Homo sapiens: one gene and its partners. The protein of the gene in region 3 interacts with the protein of the main gene of each other region in a pairwise test. Each region holds a gene or a part of one and is shown on either strand. Other genes may lie near its edges. The genes, in order: MYOCD, PID1, GOPC and ZDHHC1.

Region 1 (7,028 bases), on a different chromosome or scaffold from region 3:
GTGTACTTATATATAAATATGATTGATTGATTGATTGATTGATTGAGACGGAGTCTTGCTCTGTCACCCAGGCTGGAGTGCAGTGGCGTGATCTCGTCTCACTGCAACCTCCGCCTCCTGGGTTCAAGCGATTCTCCTGCCTCAGCCTTCCAGGTAGCTGGGACTACAGGCTTGCGCCACCAGTGCCAGGCTAATTTTTTGTATTTTTAGTAGGGACGGGTTTTCACCCTGTTAGCCAGGATGGTCTCGATCCCCTGACCTCGTGATCCACCCATCTCGGCCTCCCAAATTGCTGGGATTACAGGTGTGAGCCACCGTGCCTGGCCAATACTTTTTAAAAAACATAAATGAAAATATGTTGCCGGATTGTTTTATAACCTGAATTTTAAAAAATTAATTCTACGTTTTGGAGATCTTTTCACATCAGTTCATATAGAATTTTATCATTTCTTTTTGCTTTGCATTGTGTTTTATTGTATTCTATACTGTGAATATATTGTAATTTAATGAATCGTTCCCTTACAGATGATGTTTATGCTGTTTCCATCTTTTTTAGGTTAGGCATTATAAACTGTGATAAAATTGTATCTGTTAAGACTTTACAGTATGGATAGCTCACCAACACGATAGGTGTATCTATGTCTTCATGCCTATTCAATACTCGATATTATCAACATTTTAAAATTTTGCTAATTTGAAGTTTTTAAAAAATAGTATCTAGATCTTTCACTTTGCATTTTCTTGAACGCTAGTGAGTTGAGTATATTTCATATGCTGACTGATTATTTTCTCCCTTGAATTGTCTTTCCCTTAGGTTGTTTGCTTTAAATCTTATTGTTCATATAAGTCCTTTTAATAATTTTGTCTCACGTATATTTTCAAGTATTTTTTTCAATCTACAGTTTGATTTTAAATTTATTTTGATGATTTTTTAATGTGGAGTTTTAAAGTGTTTAAGTGACCAAATATGTCCATTTTTATTTCTAACCTGGCCATGGCCATAAGCTTGGGAAGGCTTGTCCTACACTGAGATGAAAAGATTATTCTCCTCTGTTTTCTTCAAATATTTTATAGGTTTCCTTAGCTCTTTAATCCATACGGAATTTATTTTAAGGTATATCATAAAATATCTCAATTTACTTATTTCCAAAGAGATAGTCAATTTTCTCAACAAACCCATTACATATTTTATTGTAGATAAACAGTGGACAGCCACTGTTATCAGAGGTTAAATCTATGCGTATATACATAAGTGTATATATGTGTATGCATGCACATATACACAATTCTCATCCACTGATAATAATTGTCTGTTTTACTTCTGGTACTAACTCCTAGATATTTCTTATATAACTATGTTTAATGTCTTAGAGCAAATCTCTTCTTCTTGTTGCCTTTCAAAAATTTCTTAATTTTTTTTTCTCAAATAAACTGAAGTTTAAAAAGTCAAGTTTTATTAAAACCCCTGGGACTTTGTAGGAATGGCATGTGTAATTTATAGGTTAAGTACTAGAAACAACTAGTTTGATAAATCACTATTTAGGAAATCAAGGACGATAGCAGTAATTGGATATATGCCTGGAGTTGTAGCCCAGAAAGAGGCACATTAAATCTACTGGGTCAGGTATGTGTGTATGGTTATGCGGTGGGGCAGGGAAAGAAGGAAAGGAGCTGCAGGTTATAATAGAGATAATCATCATGGGACAGTGGAACAAATACGTTCATACCTGGCCTCCAAGTTGTCTAACATCTTTGAGCCTCAGCTTCTTCATCTCTAAGATAGGAATAATCACATTTTTGTAAGGATTAAATGAGATGATAAAGGTGCCCACAGATAATAGGTTCAGTAACTCCTAGTCCTCTTCTCTTCCCTTTTGATGAGGCATGAGTCATATTTGGTAACACGTGGTCCCTAAATAGCAGACCACATGGAAGTTTCCAAAGGCATTAGGCAACTGTTACTCATTTTCCTTTTCAATCTCTACTGAAAAGGTATGAAAGGCTCATCAGATACCAGCCACCATTGGGTAAGTACCCAAGGTTACTCTGAGTTAGTTGTACAGTAGGGACAAGCATTCATCGCCAAATAGAAATAGGCCTAAAGTTAAGTTTGTTACATTGTAAGTGCTCCAAAAACACTAGCCATCATTACAGCTCATAAATATTCAAATCCATTATTCCCACACTTAGGCATTTACTCTAAATAATGAGTAGCCTACAAAACAATCCAAAGGGAGGAAAATATTTTCTTTCTTTACATGAAGGATTTCACAGTAGTGTTATGCATACAGATTTTCATAGTAGTGTTATTTATAATATAAAGATTATAACTGGCTTAATTTTCCAATACAAGTGGAAAAGGTTTAGTAAATTACTATATACTCACTTGGGGGAATATTATACAGTCTTTAAAGCAAAAACTATGTTGCTATGTAGCCGCTTGAAAAATATTTATGCTATTATACTAACGATAAAAAGGCTGAGTATAAACTTATGTATATACTCTGATTATCACGTTGTAAAAATCTTTATGCAACTGGACCAGGACAGAAAGAGAACACAAATGACAAAAAATATAATGTATTGAGGAGAACTATTGAACTATTGTTCAATTAATGTTGAACAGCATTTTCTGGATTTAACTTTTTTGAAATCATTTTTTAGAAGCTCCAGACAGGGCAGTAAGTCTCAAATAAATAACAGAAAGTTCCTTGTGGAACTTTACCTAGGACTGAAAAACCAGCCCAACCAGTCAGCAGAAAACAAGATTGGCTTCCTAAGGAGAGTGTTTCCGGAAATAGAAAAGGCAGAATAGTTTATGGGGTATTTTCTAGTCATTTCACATCATCTGTGAAATGAGGATATTGCCTGGAGTTATTTGACCATATTTTATGAGAAACAACTAATTTGATGCTTTCGTACCACTTAAGAGGCCAAGGGGAAGGAGATACAAGTTGAGAAGGGAAAACTTACTCAATGCAGTAGTTCAAACTGAGGTGTCAGAAGGGATTGCTGATAAAGACATACTAAGTATTTGAGGGTCTGTGTATCCATTAATCATTGCTGCACAAACCAAGTGAGAGCTAGGAGAACCCAATACATACATCTCACAATATTACAGTGGCTTAATTCACTTTGAATTCAATTTCTTCTCTAGTGATCTAAAGTAGCTGAATACAGCAAACATCCATGAGTCAGAGGGATTGTACTCATAAGAGAAGTACCCCAATAGTGAAAAGAAAGAACTTATCTTCCCTCACCAGCAGGAGAAAAGAAAGACATTATTCTCCCTTCATTTTGCTATGCTCTGGAAAAACAAAAGTCACAAAACAGTTTTATTTATTCTAAATTTCTGGGGATAAATGATACATTTTATTTTAACAAAAATTGGACACCTCTTTCTGTTTTATCTAAGAATAATGATCCAAATCTCGTTACGTAAAGCTTGACAGCTTGACTTACTAGCTATTCTGAAACATATAAGCATTATCTGCCTAATAAAATAGAAATTCAAAGTACTAACGTCGTAAGGCTGCAAAACTATTATTGGGCTAATGGTCATGGTTGTTGTTATTAATCCTATTTGTGTTCATCGAAAACTTTTAACTACTCCACGCATAAGCAAGAACTCTTATGCAACTCACATGCCACCAGATCCAGTTATCCATTTCCACACAGTGAATAAAGGTTCACTAATTTCCTTCTTTTCAGAAAGAAACCCTTAATAATTCTACAAAGATCTTTCCCTCATAGAAGTATGAGGATGTGAAGACCATGAGTCATTTTACCAATATGGAAACAGAGGCCCAGAGAGCCCTGGGAATATAAACATATTCCCAAGACCACGGAGTCCCAGATGGGCTCCCACTGTGACTTGGCCCACAGGACAGAAGGAATGGAACCAGGAAAGCAGAGACCTGTGAAATGCACCTGCTGGCTCCTCCCCCTTGATCTGGACAGAGATGTGGGGTACCTGTTCACCATTCATTAGATGCTCGGGAAGCCTTGCTAATTAGATGAAAATAAAGGAAATGAAAAGCAGCCTGTTCTAGCATCTCCTATTCAGGTTTGGCTTTTTTGAAGCATGTAAAATTCTAACCCTGGGTGGAGTATTTTGCTTCTGCCCTGCACTTCTGTTATTCTTCAATTTAATCCAATTAGAGTAGAGCACATTCAATCTGGTTCAAGCCAACTTGACACAATCTTGCTAACTGTTTCTGTCACATGCTGTAGCAGATAAAAGACAAATGCCACTCTTCCTGGTCTTAAAGAATTTATATGTTTTTAAAAAAGTATCCTGGGTACACAGAATTGAATTAATCACAATCCTTGGTTCATGACACTGTCACACTATCGTCATTGAGCCATAGATGACCTTTGTTTAATTAATTTGCTTAATAACACATGGACACAACTACTGCCTAACCTAAGAACAATAGGGATAACCTGCTTCTTACCTTTCGGCTACACCCCTACCTCCTTATTTAGCCTCTCCCACTGTGCTATGACTTTGACTTTTGTATTTATAGTCACTCCTCTCCTTTTTGTTCTAGTTTTAGTACACACAAACGCACATCTAACAATAAACCTATATTGCTTGTTTTTGATGTTTTTGAATAGACTTTAGAGGAAGAATAAAACCTATTTATTCAACATATATTTAATGGGTTCCTTCTCTGTGCCAAGCATAGATGATATGAAATGACTGGAAAATACCCTATAAACTATGTTAGGTGCTAGAGAATAAAGACAGTAAAAACCAAACACGAATAAACAAGTAATAATTTCTGCCGTTATGGACAAATAATAAGCAAATAAACAAGTAAAAGGTTTAGTCTGTCCAATAGTGATAAGAGCTATGAATAAAACTAGGGCAGGGAAGGTGGGGGTTGGGGTTCTTGCTATAGTGATTAAGATGGTGAGGGAAGGGCATGGGAGCTGTGAGTGAATCGAATACAGCTGGACTTGAGGAGACAGGAATGGTCTCAAGCAGGTGGCTTGAGCCAGACCCCAAATGTTCCTTTAACTTTTACATTCCATGTAGAAATTAAAATATGTTCATTTTTTAAGGTCCATTAAATTGTATTCTCATATGTAATGCTTTGATCAAGCATTTACAAAAATATTTAGGGCCATTCCCTTGGAAAAGTATTGAATCTTAGGGCTAAAAGCAACTTGAAATAGAAACCAGTCAAAACCCTCTATTTTGTAGAAAGTAAAAATGAGATCTAAAAAGGTGAATTAAATTATATGTACATACATAAATATTACATATCATGGGAAAGGTACTCTTGTAGGTTAAATTATTTGTTCTAAACTAGAAAACTAATTGCCAATGAAGGTAGATAGTCTGGGCTTCTCTCGAGCTCATGGTGAAAATGTCTTCAGTACTGTCCATTATGATAAAAATCTTGGGGACCGACTTCTTAGGCTAAGCTCAATTCCTGAGAGAGAAAATTCAGTGCCAGAGATGTTGAGGATTTAGCTTAAAGTAGGAATCAGTCGTCCTTTTAGGTTGTCTGAAGGATGGAGAATAGAGAAACGACAGAGAGAGATGACTGCAGGGTCTTGCTGAGATGTCCCTTGCCCTCTCTGAAAGGACAAGCAACCAATTACAGGCACCAGGGGCCTGATCCTGCATCTATTGGAGTAGAAGAACACAGTGGGGTGGGTCCCACTACCTGAATTCAGCCACAGCCTCTTGAGTACCTGCTTTGCATGTTCTTTGCCTTCTTTTAACTACAGCTCCAACCTCTGGAGCCTCTGCTGCTTGAGCACCGGCCTGCCTGCTGAGCTTATCTTCCTCCTTGCCAGACGACCAGAGACCAGAGGTGAAGCTCCCATGTTCTTCCTCACCCATAAGCTGGCTGTACTCTGGGGGACCTAGGGTTCATTCTCATGGTACCCCCACCCCATCTGGAGTTTTCTGCTTTCATGCCTAAAGTACAAGTTTTGCATTTTGGGGAGTCCTTGGGGACCCAGAGAATCTCAAGAGCTTGATAGGATATTGGATGGGGCAGCAGAAAGTGTTGATCAAAAACCACTCGGATTGGTCAAGAGATCGAGACCATCCTGGCCAACATGGTGAAACCCTGTCTCTACTAAAAATACAAAAAATTAGCCGGGCGTGGTAGCGGGCACCTGTAGTCCCAGCTACTCAGGAGGCTGAGGCAGGAGAATGGCGTGAACCCCAGAGGCGGAGCTTGCAGTGAGCCGAGATCGTGACACTGCACTCCAGCCTGGGCAACAGAGCGAGACTCCGTCTCAGAAAAAAAAAACAACAAAAAACACTCAGATTGTAGGTAGGGTTGCCAAAAAGAATAACAGGGCCTAGTGAAATTTGGATTTCAGAGAAAAGTATGTCCCAAGTACTGCTATATAGTGAAAAAGTAATCACTATTGCTTGGAAATTCACATTGAACTGAGCATTCTGTATTTTTATTTGCTAAACTGAACAAGGTTATATTTGTGGGGGTGGGGTCAAGTTCATGGCAATTGCCAGACTTTGCCTCTGTTTGCGCGGTTTAAGATGGGGAAGTGGGAAAGAGAGAGAGAGAAGCAAAAGAAACACAATGATTCTTTAGAAGCAACATCCATTCATGGATCTCTCTCTCCACTTTTGATCCTTTATGTCTGAGGGCTGTGTGTGCCTGTGTGTGGCACACATACGTACCTCCCTGTGTGTTTTGTAGGACACAAGGATTGATATGGAGGAGAACTGTTGATAGTGACACTGATTAGATATTGAATAAACAACATGAGAAGATTAAAAACTGTAAAAATGTGATTAGTTTAAAATCAGCACAAATTACTACATTCATGTAAAACTGCCTCTCCTTCACACACAATTGCCACACAGCACAATCACAGTTACACTTGTTCCCAGTCAATCTTTATGTGTTTTCAGAGAATGATAAAATGTTACCAAAGGGGTCTAAGACATTGCCTAATCCAACCTCAACATTTACCGATTAAATAACTGAGACAGAGAAACTGACCAACCGCCGGTCCCACTGCACATCAATATT
Region 2 (7,648 bases), on a different chromosome or scaffold from region 3:
TGATAATCAAACCTGATCAAAGATGCCATTTCCTGAGCAACGGAGCCAGTTGCTACACTCAAAAGTCCATTATTTAGAGGGTGACTGTTCTACGCAAAGATCTATCACACTCCCCTGGGACACAGACTTCTCAAACCAGCTTCATCGAATATGAACTATATCATCAAGAAAGGGTCTGGTTATTTTCTTCCATCCCCTCTTTTGATTCTAGGTATTGATAAAATAAATTGACTCCTTAGTCCTATTAGGAAGTTCTGGGAATGTTTCCTTGACGAATTTTCTTCACTCTGGCTCATCTAAATTAGAATGTTTGTATTAAAGATAAATGAGAAAAAAATTAATGAGGTCGAATGAGAAGGTTTATAAAGATTTGTGAAAGGCACATGGAGCTCAGACATCATTAAAGAGCAGAACTCATTCTCAAGTTTCCTATCCAGCATGATATCCACTGCTATCTCTGTGGCCACAGAGCCTGGGAGTGGCAAAGTGGCTTCTCACTGAGGAATCGGACAGGCATGTTTCTATATCACGGTGAAAGGAAAAGAAAAGGAAAAAACCCCAGACAGCAAACAGAGATTGTGACAAAGATAACCACAAGGAATGTAAATAAAATATGATAAGCAGCTCACTCACCATCTCATCCTCAACAGCTCTCTCAGAGGCAAAAGTAAAAACATATAAATTATGTGTTTTCAAGGAGAGTCAAGCAATACTCTTTGGGAAGAAGCCACGGATATAAAAAAATTTTTCCGCATTTGTCTCACTTCTCTAATCTCAAGGCTTGAGATGTATGTACTTTCAAAAGAGACTCATCGAAATTTGGGCAGCATGAAGTTGAGCCCCCTGTTGGTAAGGACCTTCCAACAGTGACTCGGTCTTATTGGTGATAAGCCCTGTTTATATGAGCTTTCAAAAGCCTAAAAACAGGTTCTTTCAACATGACACCTTGAAATAAAATAAACGCATTGCAAACACCAACTGCAATAAACCAGGCTCACGCCAAAATGCACACGTGCACATTTCACAAAATAAGGGGGAGACATTTCTAGTGAGGAGCAATCTCTATGGGAAGGCAAGCGAGAGCGCCCACCTGCCAAGGGTCACATGCTCCAGAGCGCACAGGATTCCCTAAGTGAAACAGGCCGGTAGGAAGAACTTGAATAGTCAAAAATCTACAAACTCTTCAGAGGTACAGATCATCAGGCCATAAAAGCCACCTCAAGGAATTTTGGTCACATCTCTCTAAGGACTTCCAAAAGCTACCCTCTGCACTTGAACAGGAAACCTGCCAGCTCCCCTCAATCATTCTGCTCCTTTGGAATAGAAGTTACGCCTTTAACCGAAGGAGAACTTCAAATGCGCCACTGGTATCTGGTGCCACTGCCAAAATATATTTACATCACCTTCTATCAGTCATTCAGAGCCCAGTGCTGATATTCTCTTAGTAAGACAAGGAGGGGGTTAGGAGGTTGGTCATCCACCTCCTCATCTGCAAGGCTAAATGCAGGTTTTCTTGTTTATTCTACTTGAGACCCTGGGGAACTGGTCTGGTGTCTCAGGCTCTGATAAATTGAACACACTCCCCGCAAATCATGGCCCAGGGAGCTTTGGAAAGGAGCTGTGGGGCATCTGTTTCTGCTAAATGCAATGCCCTCTGCGGGTTGTTCCTCTGTATGAGGACTCCTAGACAAAGGTTAGCCTCTCCCTGCATCTGAGAAACTGTGCTTGGGGCTGTAAATGTTCATTGAGAAGCCTCCAACCTAGCCAGGGCCTGGCCTCATTGTCCTAAGTCTTCAGATGCACTCAGCCTCCAATGGTGCTGTATTTTACCAGTTAAACACGTCTTCAAAGTTTACTACGAAACAATGTGGCTCCTAGCTTGCCAAAAGTTTAACTGCAGGATTCAGTGGATTTTATCTGGCAGAGTAGCTGCCGTGACTCTTGACAATATTTGCCAGCAAAAGGCAGTCCTCAAACCTTGCAACCAGGGCAATCCCAAGGCCCAACGTGTCACTGAAGGAGTTCTTCTGGGAAAGGTCCCTCTTTCTCTTCAATCGCCTCCCGCAAATCCCCAGCTTCCAGAATCCAATTCAAGGCAGTCTGGCATTTCAGGAGACAGCAGTAAAAAACTTTTGATGGGATAACCCAGGACATAAATATTCCTGGCTGAACCTACTTTTGATTCTTAAATATCTGAAGGAGCTTGGGTTTAAGGAAGATAAAGGGAGAGAACCAATGAATAGGGAAAAATAAAATAAGTAGCATACCATGACCAAGCCAAACCAAGCTTGATATTTCCACATTATATTGGCAAATGGATGCTTTCACATATCACTTGTTCTGTCTTTCCTGGTGACCACAAAAAAAAAAAAAAAAAAAAAAAAATCTGGCTTCAAAAATCCTAACCCCAGACCACTGCATTGTGTCAGTGGAATGCAATCTAAATTGCCAGTCAGAAAGTCCAACCTTATATGTACCAACCAACACGCACACAAGCACCTCCAAGCCAAAAGTTGTAACGCCTGAACCCGTGCGTTTATCAATTTCATCATCCCCATACCCCTGCCGGGTTCCTGGCGCTGGGTAAACCGACAGCATCATGTTGCCATCGATGCGTCTTACAAGATGGTTTTGGGCAAATCCCCTAAAGTAGGCAGAAGCAAAAACTAGGTTCCTCTGCCCGGGCACCTCCTCCTCCAGGCTGGCCCCCGGCTCCCGGGTGCCCCTTACCTGCAGGCGCTCCGTGGCCGGCTGCCACATCTTCCAGCCCTGGGTTTTGGCAGAGGAGACGCTGGCGAGACTGTCGATCGCGCCGGGGGGCGAGGGGCTGGGGTCCCGCTTTACATCTGGGGTCGGTGTCCGCGGGATGTGCGTCCTGGCGCTGGCCACCGCCGCCGGGTGGGCGTAGGGGGCTGCGAGCAGGAGGAGGCGCGGCGCTCAGCTGCCGGCAACTTGTGGGCACGGCCGCGCGCCGGCTGTCCTGGCGCAGCTGCGAGAGGACTGCGCAGCTCCGCCCGGGCCCGGCGAGCGCGCGGCGGCGGCGGGGGCGGCCGCTCCCTCCTCCCCCGCCGCCGCCGCCCGGACCTGCGCGCTCTGAGCATGCCCGGGGCGGGCGCCCAGGGGCCGCGCGGGGCGGGAGTGCAGCGCGGCCGACTCTAAATCCTAGTGAGGGGTGAATGGGGAGGCTAGAACAGCCGGCCCTTCCCTGCAGGAAGCCCCCATTGGGTTGGGGTCTGGGAAAAGGGACAGACTGGCTGAGGGGGGAAGGGCCTGGAGCCGGGGGTGGTGGGGGCAGCGGGGATGTCGGGGGTGGCGGGGGTGGGGGAAATTCCTAAAATAAGGAAACCGTAGCCCCGGGGGTCCCGGGTTTCCATATAACAGGCATCTCTGAAGTGCCTGTGCTGTGCCTGGCGCTGTGCTAGGGAGACACTTCCATTCATTCTTCCCACTCCAGTTAACTGAGCATCTATTAGGCTCCAGCCCCTATGCTGGGTTCTGAGGATGCAGCGACGCAGAATAGAAGACAAGAGAATGTTCCTTCTCTCTGGAGCTTACCTTCTGCTTTGGAGAGAGAGTCGTGACTGAGCAAACACATCAACAAGCCGGTGCTATATCGGGTGGTGATAAAACAGGGCAGATGTGGGAAGAAGGGGAGAGGAGAGCTTCTTAGACAAGGGCCCTGGGGAATGCCTGGAGTAAGACCTGAGAGATGAGAGGGATTGGCCACGAAGAGGCCATGCTTCATGATGGGGAGAGGACTCGACTCCTAACCTATACAGGGGTGAGGAGGGCCATGCAGACTCCCGAATCACTAACTCATCCTGAGATCTGCCAGGTGCAGCAGGAGGCTCTCAGAACCCAAGGGAAAGCCGCTCTGGGCTCGCAGGCCTGGAGGCTCCCCGGCTAGTGCCGGCCACCATGAGATGACTTCCTGTCCTAAACAGGCCAGCCCTTCCCATTCTCTTGACAACTCGGCAAAATAACTATTAATATTTTCACCATGTGGATCAAACAAATGAGGCTTATAAGGTTTAGGTCACTTGTCCAGGTCACACAGCCAGTGAGTGGCTTAGAGAGTGCACAGTCAGATGACTTCAGGGCAGGAGATGTGGCCCTGCGCCTCTAACTGACCATGGAAACCCAGTGGAAAGAGCATCCGTCTAGGGCTGGGGGTTAAAGGCACTTGGCAAGTCAGGGATACTAAGCTGATTCTCGAGCTGATGAAGAGTGGGAGAGGAGAACATGGTGGGAAGAACTCAGGACATAGAATGACCAAAGAGAGGAGCAGAGAGAACACAATGTTTGTGGGGAGCCCTAGGCTCCTACAAGGCAGGGTCCTGAGAGCAGAGGGGTGTGAAAGAGAGGCATTTCATACTGAGACAGCTGCACAGCTTGGGCCGTGAGCTACTCATGCAATGTCAAAATCCACACTCCATGTCTGGAAGGAGGATCTGTCCATTTTCCTTGTTCTGCATGACTACAATGATTTCCAGATATGGAACCACTCCAGAATCTAACCCTCAGCTCATCGGACCCTCGCAGCAACTCTCCGTGGGACAGAAGCCCCTATCTCCCAAGGCTTGGGGAGCACAGGGTTCACAGAGTCACACTGTGGGGAGTTACAATGGCGATTCAGATCCAGGATTCCAGGCAGATCCTTCTGGACCCTGCGGTTGCTATGTTGGTGCCACCAGCCTTGGCAAGCCCAGGACCCTCAGTGCCTCTAGGAGCCTCTGGCAAAGCCACAGAGCTGCCTCTGAAGAGCTTGTCTCTGTCTCCCTGGATATCCACAGGACCCTCCCACTCCTGCCTGATAACCACCTGAACCTTCTCAGCTCCTTCTCCAGTTCCTGCTACTTGTTCTGAACTTATTAATAAATCTCTTTTCATGAGGTGTTTGCCTGTCAGCCCGCACAGACATGTGCCTCACATGCTTGGTGATATGGTCTCTGTTTGCTTTTCCGGTAACTCCTCCTGCACACCTCCACACCTACAAAATTCCTTATGACCTTCCCAGCCCCCAGTTCTCTTTTATCAAATCCCAAAGTAGAAAGAAATGCAATTCATTACAAAAATCTAGAAAATCCAGACATGCATATAAACCCCACCCCCCAACCCCCCCAGGAAGCTAAAACAGGAATATTCAGTTGCCAGGGATGTCTTCAGACTTAAGCTCTGAAACCATCCTTGCTTGCAGATGCTTCCGTGGAAAAGTGATTTTGTTTTAAATAGCAGTGGAATGAGTTAACGGCCTAAATTCAAATCGCATTAGAGCGTTAAATCCTGTCTTCTCACCTCCAAACGTAATTAATTGTTATGACTCAGTAATACAGCTTTTAGTACGGAGTATGGTGCTATTTAAAGAGAAAAAGCTTTGGCTCTGTAAAGATTGCTTTCAGTTACCGTTCCCACTTTGCAAACAGATTTGGTAAAGTAAAGAATGTATTTAAACTCAAATGGCACTCCTGTTTCAATTACCTTTATGCCACGAATCAGGAAGCTAGGGGAGGGGGTGGAGGAGGGGCAATTGCAGGCTTGTGGGAGGTGACAAAAGGATGGGACAACCTCCCACTCATAGATTTTGCTCCCAAGTCTTCCCATTCAGGAGGAGCCTGCAATGAAGGGTGAATGAAATAGAGACATCTGCTGGCTAGAGATGAGACCTGCATGCCAATGTCTCCCAGCTCTGTTCTGTGACATTGGAACCTCATCCTTCCTGGTGAATCTGAAAATGCTGCCTTACGATGTAAACAGGTTTGTTCTGAGCAAGAAACCACCCTTAAAATGAGCAGAAGGTGTTTTGGTGCAATGAGTAGAAATATTAGGCATGTAAATGTGTGCCTAATTTCATGTACTTAGTCTCCTGCAATTACCGAAACAGGTCTAATCTTGTCAATAAATACCATTTGAAGGCAAATGACAGAAATCAAAAAAGCTTGACAAGGCACAGATGCGTTATTCACACATTTGGTTCAGAAAAATAATTACAGCATCCCTAGAAATTGTGTTAAGCCAGATTTGATCTAGTTCATGGTTCTGAGCCCTAGCATAAGCAACCTCAATGTCCAAGTCAGAGTAATGGTGAATGAAAGTATGGTCCAGCATATCAAAGAAATATTAAAATATTATGCAGCATTTAAAAGGATAATTATAAAGTTGTGTTGCAGCTGAAAATGATACAATTATGGTTTTTAAAGTAGGATAAAATGTATATAATTTGAATATATGTATAAAATATTTATCAATCTCAGTAAATGTTGGAAAGGAGCTAGGACAAGCAGAAGACTCAGGTTGAATCCCAGCCTTCGAACTGTCTACCTAGGTATCAGCTTTTCACAAGTCATTTGCCTTGCTGAACCTCAGATTTCTCTTCTATAAAATGGGTGATAATATTACTTAATACTTAGGATTTTGGGGAGGAGTGAATGAATTAATATGTGCAGCATGCCTGACACATGGTAGGTGTGTGGGAAACATTCGTTTTCATCCCCATTATGTTTCTTTCTCTTTTTATTATTGGAATGATCCAATTCTCACAAAGCGGCCCATGCTTCTTGTGGTTACACTATTTCCATTTGGAATATTTGTGGGTTTCAATTATTTGCTTTAGATTCTCAAATAAAAATGACAAAGGATATTCAAGCTCACTTACGATTCTTTTTTCTTTTTTGAGATGGGATCTCACGCTATCGCCCAGGCTGGAGTGCAGTGGCGCGATCTCGGCTCACTGCAACCTCAACCTCCCAGACTCAAAGCAATCCTTCCACCTCAGCCTCCTGAATAGCTGGGACTACAGGTTTGTGCCACCACACCCAGCTAATTAAAAAAAAAATTTATGGAGATAGAGTATTGCTGTGTTTCCCAGGCTCCCTGGGCTAAAGTAATTCACTTGCCTTGGCCTCCCAGAACGCTAGGATTACAGGCATGAGCCACCATACCTGGCCCACTTACAATTCTAACTTAAGCAGATGACAGCAAAATTTATTATGGTTGTGTATTTAGCAGAATTATCATTAAAAAGCCCTTGTTATGGTATCACTAACCTTATTTCAAAATCACCAAAACAGCTGTATATAAATGAGCAATATAAAAAAGTCTGAAAATTCATTCGACCATTTAAACCTCCCAGTAGTGACAGAACCACTGGCTTTCGTCCCTACAGAGTGATAGGAATGTATTGGGATGTTAAGATGACGCTTAACAGGGTAGGACTGGCTCATTCGTGTGTTGTGACTCTCCTACTCTTGACTCCTCATATCCTCACAAACCTTAGACACCTGATAGATTATTTTCAGAAATGCCCACAAAAATCTCCCCTCCCCAAGGAAGTCATGCCCATTTGCACTGTAACTTGCCTGCTTCTCTCATCATGAGATGCAATCTGTCCACATTCCTTGAATCTGTGCTGGACTTGTGGCATACTTGACCAATAAAATGCAGCAGATGTGACACTGTGGAACTTCTGAGCTTGGGCCACAAAACACTTTGCAGCTTCTGCTCTCACCCTTTTGGAACATAAGTCATCCTATGAAGGAGCCTGGACTAGACTCCTCAAGATGAGAACAACACAGAGGGAGGTCAGACCATGAGTTAGCACCCACAGCCAGATATGTGAGTAAGGTCATCTCATAACACCCAGCTCAAGCCA
Region 3 (6,958 bases):
AAACGGCAGAAGCTGCTAAACGTGTACAGATTAACATCAAAGACAAACAAGTTGACTGTAACTGAAAAAACACAAACAAATGAACAAACAAACCAAAATCATTAGGATTTTTCCCCTCCCCATTTTCCTATGATCTTTAAATCAACAGTTTCAAGCATAAAAAATATGCTCACATTGTGATATGCTAGCATTTCCTATTTTGAGAAACAATGCAACCTCCTAAACCAGGACATAAAGTCAGAATGTGTGATTTTAATTTCTGAAAAAAGAACATGCATAATTTATTACAATTCTGAATACTCATCTAAAATATTTAAAGACAAAAAAAATGGAGCACAGCCTCCTACTGAGAAAATTATCCTTCCTCCCAATTTCAATTTTTATATCTGACATCAAATCCCTGTTTAAAGTTTCCTTAGGTCATTTTAAAAATAAATAAAATATTGTTTCATTTTTAAAAAGTTGTTAATGCCCAGTTGATACTGCAGTTGTAAATGATATGAAATTTCTCGTGTGATGTTTTAGTCCACTTTCTGTTTCTTATAACAGAATACCAGAAACTAGGTAATTTATAAAGAAAAGGAATGTATTTCTTACAGTTATGGAGACAGAGAAGTCCAAGGTCGAGGGGCCAGATCTCGAGAAGTCGAGAGCCTTCTTGCTGGCAGGGGATCTGTGCAGAGTATGGAGGCAGCATAGGGTGTCACATGGCAAGGAGGCTGAGCATGCTAACATGCTTACTCAGGTCTTTCTTCCTCTTCTTATAAACCACCAGTTCTACACTCCTATGATAACTCATTCATCCATTTATCCAATAACAAATCAATCTATAAGTGGATTAATCCATTCATAAGAACAGAGTACTCATGATCCAGTCTCCTCTTAAAGGCCCCACATTGGAGATTCAATACTGTCACATTGAGGATTAAGTTTCCCATACACGAAATTTGGGGGACACATTCGAATTATACCATGTGGTAAAGGCTACTCTTGATCTTTGTTGTTTAAAGCTAGAGAACTAATGGCCAGGCACAGTAGCTCATGTCTGTAATCAAAGCACTTTGGGAGGCCAAGGCAGGAGGATCACCTGAGGCCAGGAATTCAAGACCAAACTGGGCAACAAAGCACTCCATCTCTTTTTTGAAAAAAATATAATAAGATAAAATAAGATGAAATAAAGTTAAAGTACTATTTCTAGAAAACATTAAATGCAATTTCACTATCTGAGAAAAATAGCTTTCTTGTGGAAATTACTACCAATAAAGAAATCAAGAGATGTTTTCATTTACCTACAGTAAGAAGTGATTACCTTCATATTAGCACTTTCTAATCTTTTCAAAAAGGATAGAAGAAATTAACAGTTCTCGCAGTGGAGAAGAGCCACAATTCTTGGATATGTAAATCTATGTTAATCAAAGATTAATTATGCCACATATTTCATGGCTAATAGGAGAGAAAGAATGCTGACCACTAGGCAAGGAGAGGATGTTTAACTGACATTCATATTGATATAGATATAATGGGCACTGTCAATGACAACGAGTAATGATGATTTCTTAGGAAAGCATGTTCAGAGTTTTGCACATCACTGATTATCCCATTTTTATCTATTACACTTTTTGAAAAGAAAGACCCATTCTCTTAAATTGCCTAGTTAGAAAGTACTCTTTATGCAATAATGTTAATCTATCTTGATTTCTAAATATTTTAATAATGTCCTTTTTAAATTTTCTGCACAATATGATATTTTTGTTTTTTTGAACCACAGCCACTCCACCCTCACCCACACCCAGGATCAGAGATTAAAGCAAATGATTCTTTACACTCTCTCAAAAATAAATCCAGACTTTGGAAAATTACACAGTAATGTACAAGCATATAAAAACTCAAGGTCAGAAGTAATTTCAATAATTGCAGGGAGCTCTCTGGAGGTATCTGCCTGTAATTTAACAACCAACTATGGATGTAAACCGAGACAGTGATACTATCGTTATGCACCACGAAATTTTCCTAAGAGCTTTGATCAGATTCCCCTAAATAGTTTATGCATGTCTCTGTATGCAATCATAGGCGCTGACCTGGAATAATTAAAATGAAAATAATCAGTGCTGTATCTGTCTTAACATATACAAATTCGGTTTATCAATGTGAAAGCAGATCTGCAAAACTCAGTTGTCAAAAGGTGGCCTACGGTATTTTCATGACAGAGAATCTTTGTTAGGTTTGTTAATGTAACATGTGCAATGGAGGCTGGTGTATGTAATTAGTTTCCTCCTCAGAGAGATACTAGGAAGGTGGACGACAGTACCCCGGGAACTCACACGTCGGTCTAGGGCCCTTTTTGTCCCCCACCCTCACCTCACTCCTCAGACATGCACTCTCCCATCACATTTGAAGCCCCGGTGGGCAGTTTTCTAGGGTCGTTTCACTGGAGCGTTAAATGGCATCTGACGCCACCGGGCAGCCTGGGGTTGGATGCCATAGCCGCCAGCACCCACGGCTCACCTCCAGCTTGTGGTTGATTTGAGACACAGACTGGGCTTTGTGGCAAAGCTGTGCAAAGCAGGAGCTCAGGCTGGTCATCTTCTGTCGCCCCTCATAAGTGATGTCCGCTTGGTCTGGATCGATCTCTCCCAGGAGCAGATCCACATCCACAAAAGCTTTGTCGAACTCCTTCTCCAGCACCTCCAGCCACCGGAACATGGATACCCCGCCAGGGGCCCCCACGGAGCAGGAGGCGCCCCCTGGGCCCCCTCCGGCTGCTGCTGGGCATGGACCGCCCGCCGACATGGCGCCGTCAAGGGCCTCTCCCGACTGCTGAAGACCCTCGCCGCCCCCCGCGCACGAAGGGAACTGCTGGGACTGAGGGGACCCCCGCGCGCGCGGGCACACTCCGTCACCTCCCTTCACCTCGCGCCGTTAACGCCAGCAGCACAGTCACAGAACCGCAGGAGTAACGAGGCTGAAGCTGAGGCGGCAACGGCGGCGACACACGGAAGACTCAGTCAGTCCCACCTCCCAGCCTGCCCCCGCTGCGCATGCGTAGCGAAGAGCTGGGCGGACGCAGCCACGAGGGACAAAATAGGCGGGGACAGGATGCGATCTTGGCCTATGAAAGGCCTCAGCTTGGGAGCGGCCTGTCAGCGGCCATATTAACAACTGGCAAACTACGGCTTGAATCCCTGAGAAACGGAGGCGCGTGGTTTCTGCACCCTGGTTGGAAAGGCCCGAGGATGAGAAAGGTGTCCACGTCGCAGAAAGGAAGGATTTCCGCCGGTTTGACTTAACAGTTGGCGGGAGCCGTTCCAAAATCCTCCCAGAAAGTTGCTGCGGTGGCATCTAGGGTCAGGGAGGGGAGAGCAAGGAAGGGCGGTGTGAGCATGCGCAATAGCCACGTTTTTACCTTCTCGATTCCAGTTCCTGGATAGGATGGAGTGGGTGTACACACTGGCTGTTCTTGGTAAACCAGACCCCAAATTCCAGGTGTGGACTGCCTAAAGCTGCGCATTGAAGCGGCTGACCAGATTTTGCGGAATTAATAGAAGACTTTTTGTCTTGTGATTAAGAGTCAGGTAGACCTGGATTCAATTCTTACCCTCTGTCACATACTACCTGTGTCGCCTTTCATGTATTAACCTCGAAACCAAGTTTCCAAATTTTACTTAACTCAGTTGTAAGGTAAAACGCTTAGCGTCACTTCTTGGCACACGGTATTCCTCTTAATACACCATAGGTCACACATTTCAAAAGCAACTACAGTAGTGCTTCACTTAAGATGGGGATATGTTCTTAGGAATGTGTCCTTAGGTTAATCATCCCTTAGGGAACATCCTAGAGTGTATTTAAACACAAACCTAGATAGTATAGCCTACTACACACCCAGGCTATATGATGTAGCCTATTGCTCTTAGGCTGTAAACCTGTACAGCATGTTGCCATTCTGGATACGGTAGGCGATTATAACACAGTGGTAACTATTTGTGTACTTAAACATATCTAAACATAGAAAAGGTACAGTCATATACTCTTATAGGATCACCATAGTTTATGCGATCCATTCATTGCTGAAGCCTTGTTATTTGGCACATAACTGTACTTTAAAAGGTGTATTTATTTGAAAACTGGTAGTGTCCTCACACGTGACATTTCAGAAAATCAAAATTGTGAATTCATATATTTACAAATATATTGAATGCAGAGCTCTGTTGCGACATTGAAGACACAAAAATGAATGAGACATGACCCTTACTCAAGATAGGCTAGTGAGGCTACTACCCCTCAACTATAACTTTAACTTGAATTTTTCAGTGCCTTTAAAAGTATCCAGCAACTCCTCTCTTTACATTCTGCCTACTTCCAGTTCAAGGGTAGACAGTCCTAGAAAGGGAAAGAGAAACCTGTGTGATTAGAGTAGGCTGGTGGAAACTCCTGCATTACCTAGAAGCATATTTAGCTGAGTGCAGTCTGCTGTTATCTGTTCTTGGGGCAGACCCTTACGGTTAATCACAACCCAAAGCCTGCATTGTGTGCCCTTCGCTGATGCAAGGCAACTGAGGAGCAAGAAATCACAATTTTATTATTGCAGTCTTTGTACTGCATGGCAGACTGGTTAGCATGAAGCAATAAAGTCCTTTGGCTTGAGCAAACTTAGCTAATCAAAATGGATCATGAGATCCTGACCTTAGACTTAAGTAGGGACCTTCATACAGGTTTTAGTACACAATAAATAATGTAAAACTAAAATTTACATCTTTCCCCATTCCCTTCCAAAATTAGCTTTATTTTCATCTACAATATTTGCAAAAACATTGCTACAGCTATCAAGCTCCCAGCCACTTTATCTACACATAATACAGTTAGCAATGCATTTTCAGGAACGCGAAGTAAATAATTTAAAATTAGCAGGGCAGGGGGAGAATACATCGAACCACAATTATAATAGCTTTCAATTATTGAGTCCTTACTATGTGTTAGGCATTATGCTATTTTCTTTAATTCTTTGATCCTTACAAAATCCTATGAGGTAGGTATGATCACGTCTTTTATTGTTGTTGTTGAGACAGGATCTTGCTCTGTCGCCCATGCTGCAGTGCAGTGGCACGATCACAGCTCACTGCAGCCTCACTTTGTTGACCAGGCTGGTCTGGAACTCCTGGACTCAAACAATCCTCCTGCTTAGGCCTCCAAAAGTGCTGGGATTACAGGTGTGAGCCACCACACCCAGTAATCACTTTTTAACAGCTAAAGTCACAGACAGCTTAAGTGTCTTGGTAAGGTCACAAAACTAGAAAGAGATTGAGGTAGTATATCAATCTAGGTGTCTTTTTCTCCTAAGTTGTTGCTGTTAACCATGTAATACAGAAGAATGAAGGAATCTATTTCTTCTTGTAAAAGTTAGCAGTATAATAAACTAGCAAGTAAGTTCCAAAAGTTCTTTTTAATTTCTTCCTAGTTAGAAACCATATACAAATCTATTAACATATAAGAACCATTACCAAAAATTGTAATAACTCATTTTCTATTACTTGTAACTCTAATTTATATGAACCACACTTGAGTATAAATTTCATTTCTTTAAAAAATCAACTTCCAGCTACATTGTGTGGGTGCAGCTGAGTGACATTTTAAGTGTTTATATGTTTCCAGTGCTCTAATGGTTTGTGGGTACCCCCATTTTCGAGATTGCAGAACCCAGCTTCGTATCTATTACCTTTACAACTTCAACAAGTCATAGACTCATCTGTGTCTCAGACGAGTTTCATGTCATGTTGTCCCTTCTCATTACTGTAGTATGTAGACATAATCTTTTGCCCACCTGGATTGAGGTTATGCAAATCTGCAAGTCACAGCAGAACATGGATGTGAAAAGGAGGGCTTATCATCGGGGCTTGATGTTCAAGTGCTGCCATCTGTTGTCGGTGTACTCTATCTACACTTACTGCCTTATCCTTACCTACTCTGGAATTGGAGATTGCATGTAATGTCAATACTTGAGCGATTTGTTTTTCCACAGATATTAAAGTCTTGATACTTCTATTTGCAGTTGGATTGGCAGAAGCTTCCAATAACTGTTTTATGAATCATGCTTATGTGATTTTTAAAAAATATAACTTAAATGTGACACTCTTGTTTTAGGAACTTATCCCTACAGAGTTTTGTCACAAGGCATTACTAAAAATAAATTGGTTGGAGACTGAGGAAATTGGGGAAAGAGAGATGATGCTAAGGGTTTCTTTGATAGGTACTGGTAATTAACTGCGGGGTCAGTGTATAGTTTAAATATTTATGGAGCATCATTGATTGCAAGGGCACTGTAATAAAAGGGTGTATAAGACCCACCTTGGACTGGAGAGGGAGATTATCACTTATTGAACTCTACTGTGTTCCAGGCCCTGTACCTAACTTCACGTGTTTCATTTAGTTTCCAGTAACCCTACCAAGAGAAGGGGTTAAGTATATGCTGTTAGTGGCTATAACAAGTTGTATGTATGGTGAATGAAGAAAGTAAAAATCCACTAGCATTTTATTTAATCAATGTAGGAAAGGTTTGGAGTGTTGTATTCATACATATTATTTATATTTATTGAATTTATTATTCATATTACCAACAGTTTTGAAAATTTCAGATACATATGCTAAAGAAGTAAGTTTAGGAATCCAAAGGGATTTATTAGCCTTATTCTCCTGATTATTTCCCTTATATAAACAAAGGGATCTGGGTGTGGCGGTGTGCACCTGTAGTCACAACTACTTGAGAGGCTGAGGTGGGAGGATTTCTTGAATCTAGGAGTTTGAGACCCTCCTGGGCAACATAATGAGATCATGTCTCAAAAACAAACAAAAAACAGGACAACTGTTTGCTCTCTTGTTTTTAAAACTTGAGAATTTTGGTACAGTGATTTAGAATTAGCTCAGACACCTCCTCTTCCAGGAAGCCTTCCTTCTTTCTCCTCATATG
Region 4 (5,854 bases), on a different chromosome or scaffold from region 3:
CCCCGAGACTCTCCGGGAGCCGCATCCCGCCCCTCCCCCGCAACTCCGCGGTCCTCGCGACGGCGAGACCAGCGCTCTGCAGTTCGGGGCGTCTTCGGACGGCCCCCTGAGGAAACAGCCTCCCATCCTGGGATGTGCCTAAAGCTCTAAGCGGCCCCAATCTCCAGAAGAGATCCAGCTCCCCAGAGAGTCAACCAGAGGCCACTGGGGAGCTGCGCGGGGCATTGGTGGGGCTTGGGGAATCGGGAAGGAGCTCTCCCTCAGTGACAGGGGTATACGGTTGACTCAAGAGCACTGCCATCCACTGAACGGATGGCACCCCCAGGCCACAACTCCCGTGCTCTCTTGGGTAGGATTCAGAGCCTGGAGCAGTGGGGAAGAAGGGAGGGGACTCCCTACGAGCGAATCGCGCTCGCCCAGCCCCAGGATGCTGGCATTCGACGGCAGCCCTGCTGCCGGGGAAAAGCTGCGGGACCTCCTGGCTCGGCCCCCTCCTTTCGCCGCCACCTCCCCACGGCCTCGCAGCCTCAGCGCCCACTGCTGCTTTCGGAGCCCAAAGCCTGCTTTCTCTCGGCCTCCCAGTGCAAAGCCCATCTTTAAGAAAAATAACCTCCTCCAGGCCGCCTTCTAAGGCCTTTCCTAACCACGAGCCGCACGTGAGCACCTCCACAGGGCAGCCTGGGTGGCTACCTACTATACAGGGACCTCCTCCCCGCCCCCGGTCCACTGGCCAGGGTCGGGCTTCTGGATGGCCCGTGGCCCCTGCCATTAAGAAAGTAAGCGCGACGTCCGCAAAAGCATAAAAAAGTTTATTGGAGCATCACAGCCGGTGGGGCGGGTATTGCTGAGTCGTGGGGGAGGGAGGCCGATCCCGCCGGCCGTAGGGGCCCCTAAAGTGCACTCGGTGCGGCAAGGATGGGGTGTTGCATAGAGAGTCAGGCCGGCCGCTCTAACTCGGCCCTCCGGCCTCTCGGCCCAGCTAAGCCAGACCAGCCTCCCGGCCGCCCGGCGCCCTGGGCTCGCCGCTGCTCGGGCTCACGAAAACGGCGGGCGCACGCGCCTGCCGCGCCAGCGTGGGCTGTCGGCCCCGGCCCCGCGGGGCGGCCAGAGCGGCGCTGCCCAGGCGCGTCTGCGCCACTGGAATCTCGTCCACGGACTCTGCCGACGCCGAGTGGTAGGCGCCGGCAGGGCCAGCGGCGTGCACAGGGCTGGCGTCCGCGGAATCCGTCGACGAGCTGGAGCGGCGGCTGGGGGCCCTAGGCCCTGCGCAAGGGAAGGGAACATGAGCCCAGTGGCTGCGGCTCGCTTGTGGCTCTGCCTTCCCCTCCCTCGAGTTCCCAGAGCAGGACCCGGACAGGGAGAGGCGCTCACCCGACGCCGGATCCGAGGTCTCAGACGTTCGCACTTTATACACGCGCCTCTTCCTCTTTTTCTGCAGAGACACGGGGGAGCCTGAGGGCCCCACATCGCCAAAAGAAGCAGAGGCGAGCGCCAGGGTAGAGGCTTCTTTCTATCCCACTCCACCTGGACCGGAGGCCCAGCACAGTCCCTCCTACCTGGGGTCGGATCCGGGGAGGCAGGGCGAGAGTGTCTGGGGAAGAGGGTGGTGGAGGTTCCGCTTGGCCACGGGTGGCAAGAAACTGGGAGGGACTGAGGGGGAAGCAGGAGGGTAAGCCTGGGGCCTGTTCCCCAAATCCCTCCCCACTGGAGGTGCTGAGAGAAGCTTCCCTTCCTGTTAGCTCAGAGAAGGGCCTGACCCATGCCCCGACCTTAGCCTACCCCCTTCTCCTGCCTCGATGGCCCTGCCATGCTAACTGGAGATGCCCAGTGGCACATGCCCAGGTTGCACTCACTTGGCATTCACTGCTGCTGGCCCGGCCTGGCCAGGGGGCTCTGGGCGCATATGTCTGAAGGTCCGCATGTAGAACTCCATCTCCTGGGGAAGGTGGAAGTCAAGGAGGCTGGGAGGCCAGGTGTGGCTCCCGAGCCTGCTGAGCCCTAAGCCCACGCAGTCCTGCCCTCATTGGCCTCTGTGGGATATCTCAGGCCTCATGCCAGGCTCCCAGCCATGCTGGGAAAACCCCATCTGTAGGGTAAGGCTTAAAACACCCATTTCTGGCCCTTGCCCCATCCCCAGGTCCTTACCTCATCTATTCAGCCTCTGCCTCCTGCAGGAAGGCTCCCAGCCCCCATGGGTCTATAGGCCCAGTTTAGAGAGGCTCAGCCAGGGAGTGGTGGGAAGCTCAGAGCTGCCCGCACCTGCTCCTGGTGTCCCCAGGGATCCAGCCTCTGAACCAATTGTTTTCCCCTGGCTGAGAAACAGGCCTGAGTGTGCATCCACCAGCTCCCGCAGAGCTGAGTCCTGGGCACACCCCTCGCCCTCACAGAGGACCAGCCACGATCCAGGCTGCCGAGAAGGGGCTGCGTAAATGCACATGCGGTGGTCTCCCTGCCACTACACCAAAAGGGAAGGTAGCAGGTGGTGGAACAAACAGAGCCGCAGCCCCACTGAGCACCAGGCTTATGGGCAAGCCCTGATCTTCACAGCAACCCTGAGGGTGCAGACGCGACCCCTGAGAGCAAAGGGGCCTTGAGGCCAGGGGGTTGCAGGAGTGGCCTAGTCCTGCACCCCCGCCCGCAGGACTCGCCCCAGCTTTGCCCAGAAGGACTCCAGGTGAGGAAACAAAAGCCTGGGGAAAGCAGGCCCGGGAAGGGCGTGGTGCGAGATGGGGGCGGGTCCCGGGCGGGGTGGGAGCCGGGAGGGGTTGCCGGGAGCACCCGGACAGCTGTCGCCAGTTCAGCAGCCGTTTCCATGGAGACGGAGGCGTCCTGACTAATGCAGAGAGGACACTGTAACAGCAAGGCCGTCTCTAAAACAAGCCTATGTTTGGGGGCAACGGCTCCAGAGAGGGGCCCCTCCCGCATTCCTGCTGGGGTGGGGGTGGGTGGCTGCCTGCAGGGCCCTGACAGATCTGGGGGAGGAGCCCAGCCAGCGGCCCCGCCCAACCTCTGCCCTGGCTGCTGCTCTGGAGAGGGGTGTGGGGGCGCCAGCCTGGGCCGAGGAGCGCGGGGTCAGGGGTCAGAGGCCAGTCACAGGGACTGGAAACCTCAAGATCACTCTCCCCCACACCTCTTTTCTGCCCCAGTGTGGACTCAGTGACCCTCTAGGGCCAGCAGAGGGGCAAAGCCCACTGGGGGGCCCTGGGCTCCAGAGGGGGGAGCAGAGGAGGGGCCAGCAGTAGAGGAGGTCTCAGAAGCTGAGGGGCCTGGATGGGAAAGGCGCCAGGCCCTAGCCAGCTCAAGAAGTCTGAAAGCGTCCCCAGTGAGTCCCCACTCAGAGCCCTGTCCTCTCTCGCCATGGCTGTCCAGAGGATACTGTCTCAGAGACCTTCAAAACCGTGTACATTCCTGAATGGTACTGGGCCCTCAGCCTCAGCTCTCTGCTTTGTAAAAGAGGACAAGAACACCACTCCTGTCCCCCGGGTTTGCCTCCCTCAAGTCACTGCAGATGGACAGAACAGAAATTAAATGTCTTCGCTGTGGCCACATTTGGCCCCAAAGCCTTGGCAGCGCAGGGCCAAAGAGCCCGCCCTGCTTCAGTGGGTGCTGCCTATGAGGCTTGAGAAAGTCTCCTGCCTACTTCTCTGGGCCTCCGTCTCCTCTTGATGTGGGGCTGGAAACAGTACCCTCTCCCCAGCACAGCTGCCACCATCAGAGCCCAGCACTGGGGCAGGTATACGGTGGTGTAACAGTGGAGTCGCCACCCACAGCCAGCATGCCCCAGGCCCAGGCCTGCCCAGTCCTGGCAGCCTGGCCCACAAGTAGTGTCCAGCCCTGGTGACAAGAACAGAAGAGGTGGGGTCCTAGGCCCTCCCCAACCCACCCACCAGCCTCTGTTTGTGTCCAGTTGCCATGAGGCCTCGGGATCCAGGGCTCAGCCTTCCCCCAGCAAAGCCTGCCCGGGCCCCGCCTTCCTAGTCCCTAGGGGCTCCTTTGACGACTGGATCACCCCCACCCCAGCGGCTGACCTCAGGAAGCCATGGGGCGTGGGAATGGGGATAGGCTGGTCAGCCACTGGCCTGGCCAGGCCGGCCAGAGCGTAGAGACCTTAACTCTTCCCAGACCCAGCTTGTGGTTAACCTTCTAGGCCTCAGTAGGCACATCTGCAGAAGAGGCTGTTCTAAGCATAAATTAGGGTAATGGGTATAAGCGCTCAAGGTCATGGATGAGGAGAAGTGATGGCTCCATCCTGGCCACCCATCACTGACCCCGTCGCTGGTCCATCCCTCTCTCTCCTGCTGCAGCCCCAACCTGCTTGCTTCCAGGCTCCCACATCCCATGCCCTCCCGCGCATGCTTGGCGCCTGGGCAGGTGTGTACGTGGGGTCCGGGAAACACAGGGCTCCCTCTGGCTGTGCCCACGCTTGGGCGAGCAGGCACACGCTCAGCACAAGCCCGGTCCCTGCTGCCCCCAGCGGCTGTTCCAGGCTTGCCTCCCTTGCCCTGTCTCCTCACTGGCTGCTCGCTGCACAGCCCAACACCCCCCACACCCAGGCCCCCTCCCACCCTTCATCCTCTATACCTGAATGGGCCGCATCTTGGGAGGACATGACTCGAGCTCCCTGTGAACCCCCTTGGCCTCCTGTGGTGGGCGGTGCTGCACGATGTACTCATAGGTGGTGAGCTTGTGCCACACTGGTGGGGGGAGGAGAGGGCTCAGTGCGGTGGAAGGGGGACTCTGGAGCTCAGAACAGGAGGGAGGACAACCAGCCCCAGGCTGAAACCAGTGTCCCCAAATACACGAAGCCATCAGGTGAGACCTGGCCACCATAGTGAGCCCATACTAGGCAGGGGCATGGTTTCAGGGTCCACCGTCCAACTGGGCACCTTCCTGCAATCTGAGGACCCCTGCGTTCCAGAAGGCAGGTGCAGGAGGCACTTACTGAGATAAATGTGGAAGCAGAGCAGGTGCCCCAGGAGGGCTGTGGACAGGAGGCCCAGAAGGATGAGCAGGGCGGCCAGGGCCAGGATGGCAGGGGCCTGGGTCTCCACGGGGGCGGCAGGCAGGAACACGAACCACACATCCGTGTGATTCTTCAGGACTGCAAGGCACAGGCAGTGTGTGCTCAGCCGGGGACGTGACGGGTGACCAGGGTTGGGGGTGAGAATAGGCCCGGAGCCTAAACTGACCTTCAAAGTGTCGGTTGGTGCGCAGACGCATGGGGTTGACAAAGAACTCCACGAAGACATATGTGGCCACCAGCACCAGGAGCAGGACGCCCAGTAAAGCGGATGCAACACTGTGTAGAAAGAGCCTGGGCCCAGCCATGGGTCGCTGTCAGCTCCCCGGAGCTCCAGCCTCAGAAGGCCCATAGGAGTTGGGGCTGTAGGGTCATTGCTATGGGCTCAGAGGGCTGAGGGTGACCCCACAGCCCCAACTCCTCAGAAGCCAAAGGCATACGGCAAAACTGAAGATGGGTGGCCACCCCATCAGGCAGCCCACATTTCTCTGGGCCAGCTTGGTGGAAGATTCCAGGCCCACCCTTGGCCATCTCAGCCGGCACCCAGGAGCATCACTCTCTCTGGGCAGCACCCCCGCATAAAACGGGCACAGGTCCTCGAAGCATCCCCATCCCCGCCCGCCTGCCATGCGAGCTGCAAGGTCTGTGGCTCCCACCCTCAGACAGTGCATCCCCAGGCCCGCGTGCGGCCGGGCTGTCCTCACCGGTAGTTCCGCTCGCCCACACAGTTGTTGAGCCACTTGCAGTGGTGGTCGAAACCGCACACGCACTTGTTGCAGGCGCTGCAGTGCTTGGAGCGAGCGCTCCTGCAGGGAGAGGGGGCACAGCGCGATT

Evidence for each region.
Region 1: the proteins of GOPC (region 3) and MYOCD interact in binary tests that used the Homo sapiens proteins (3 or more experiments, as listed by UniProt).
Region 2: the proteins of GOPC (region 3) and PID1 interact in binary tests that used the Homo sapiens proteins (3 or more experiments, as listed by UniProt).
Region 4: the proteins of GOPC (region 3) and ZDHHC1 interact in binary tests that used the Homo sapiens proteins (3 or more experiments, as listed by UniProt).

Annotation. Positions count from the first base shown.
Region 1 is NC_000017.11:12,668,875-12,675,902, reverse strand, and holds part of MYOCD (myocardin), read right to left. Parts: intron 4,042-7,028; exon of another isoform or gene 3,712-4,041; intron 1-3,711. UniProt on the Homo sapiens protein: Smooth muscle cells (SM) and cardiac muscle cells-specific transcriptional factor which uses the canonical single or multiple CArG boxes DNA sequence. Acts as a cofactor of serum response factor (SRF) with the potential to modulate SRF-target genes.
Region 2 is NC_000002.12:229,268,284-229,275,931, forward strand, and holds the start of PID1 (PTB-containing, cubilin and LRP1-interacting protein), read right to left. Parts: upstream 3,005-7,648; 5' UTR 2,761-3,004; coding exon 2,731-2,760; intron 2,360-2,730; exon of another isoform or gene 1-2,359. UniProt on the Homo sapiens protein: Increases proliferation of preadipocytes without affecting adipocytic differentiation.
Region 3 is NC_000006.12:117,599,499-117,606,456, forward strand, and holds the start of GOPC (Golgi-associated PDZ and coiled-coil motif-containing protein), read right to left. Parts: upstream 3,014-6,958; 5' UTR 2,791-3,013; coding exon 2,506-2,790; intron 1-2,505.
Region 4 is NC_000016.10:67,393,631-67,399,484, forward strand, and holds the end of ZDHHC1 (palmitoyltransferase ZDHHC1), read right to left. Parts: intron 5,827-5,854; coding exon 5,725-5,826; intron 5,315-5,724; coding exon 5,190-5,314; intron 5,102-5,189; coding exon 4,943-5,101; intron 4,695-4,942; coding exon 4,582-4,694; intron 1,937-4,581; coding exon 1,854-1,936; intron 1,651-1,853; coding exon 1,557-1,650; coding exon of another isoform or gene 1,433-1,556; coding exon 1,372-1,432; intron 1,264-1,371; coding exon 980-1,263; 3' UTR 522-979; downstream 1-521. UniProt on the Homo sapiens protein: Palmitoyltransferase that catalyzes the addition of palmitate onto various protein substrates, such as NCDN and NLRP3. Has a palmitoyltransferase activity toward NCDN and regulates NCDN association with endosome membranes through this palmitoylation.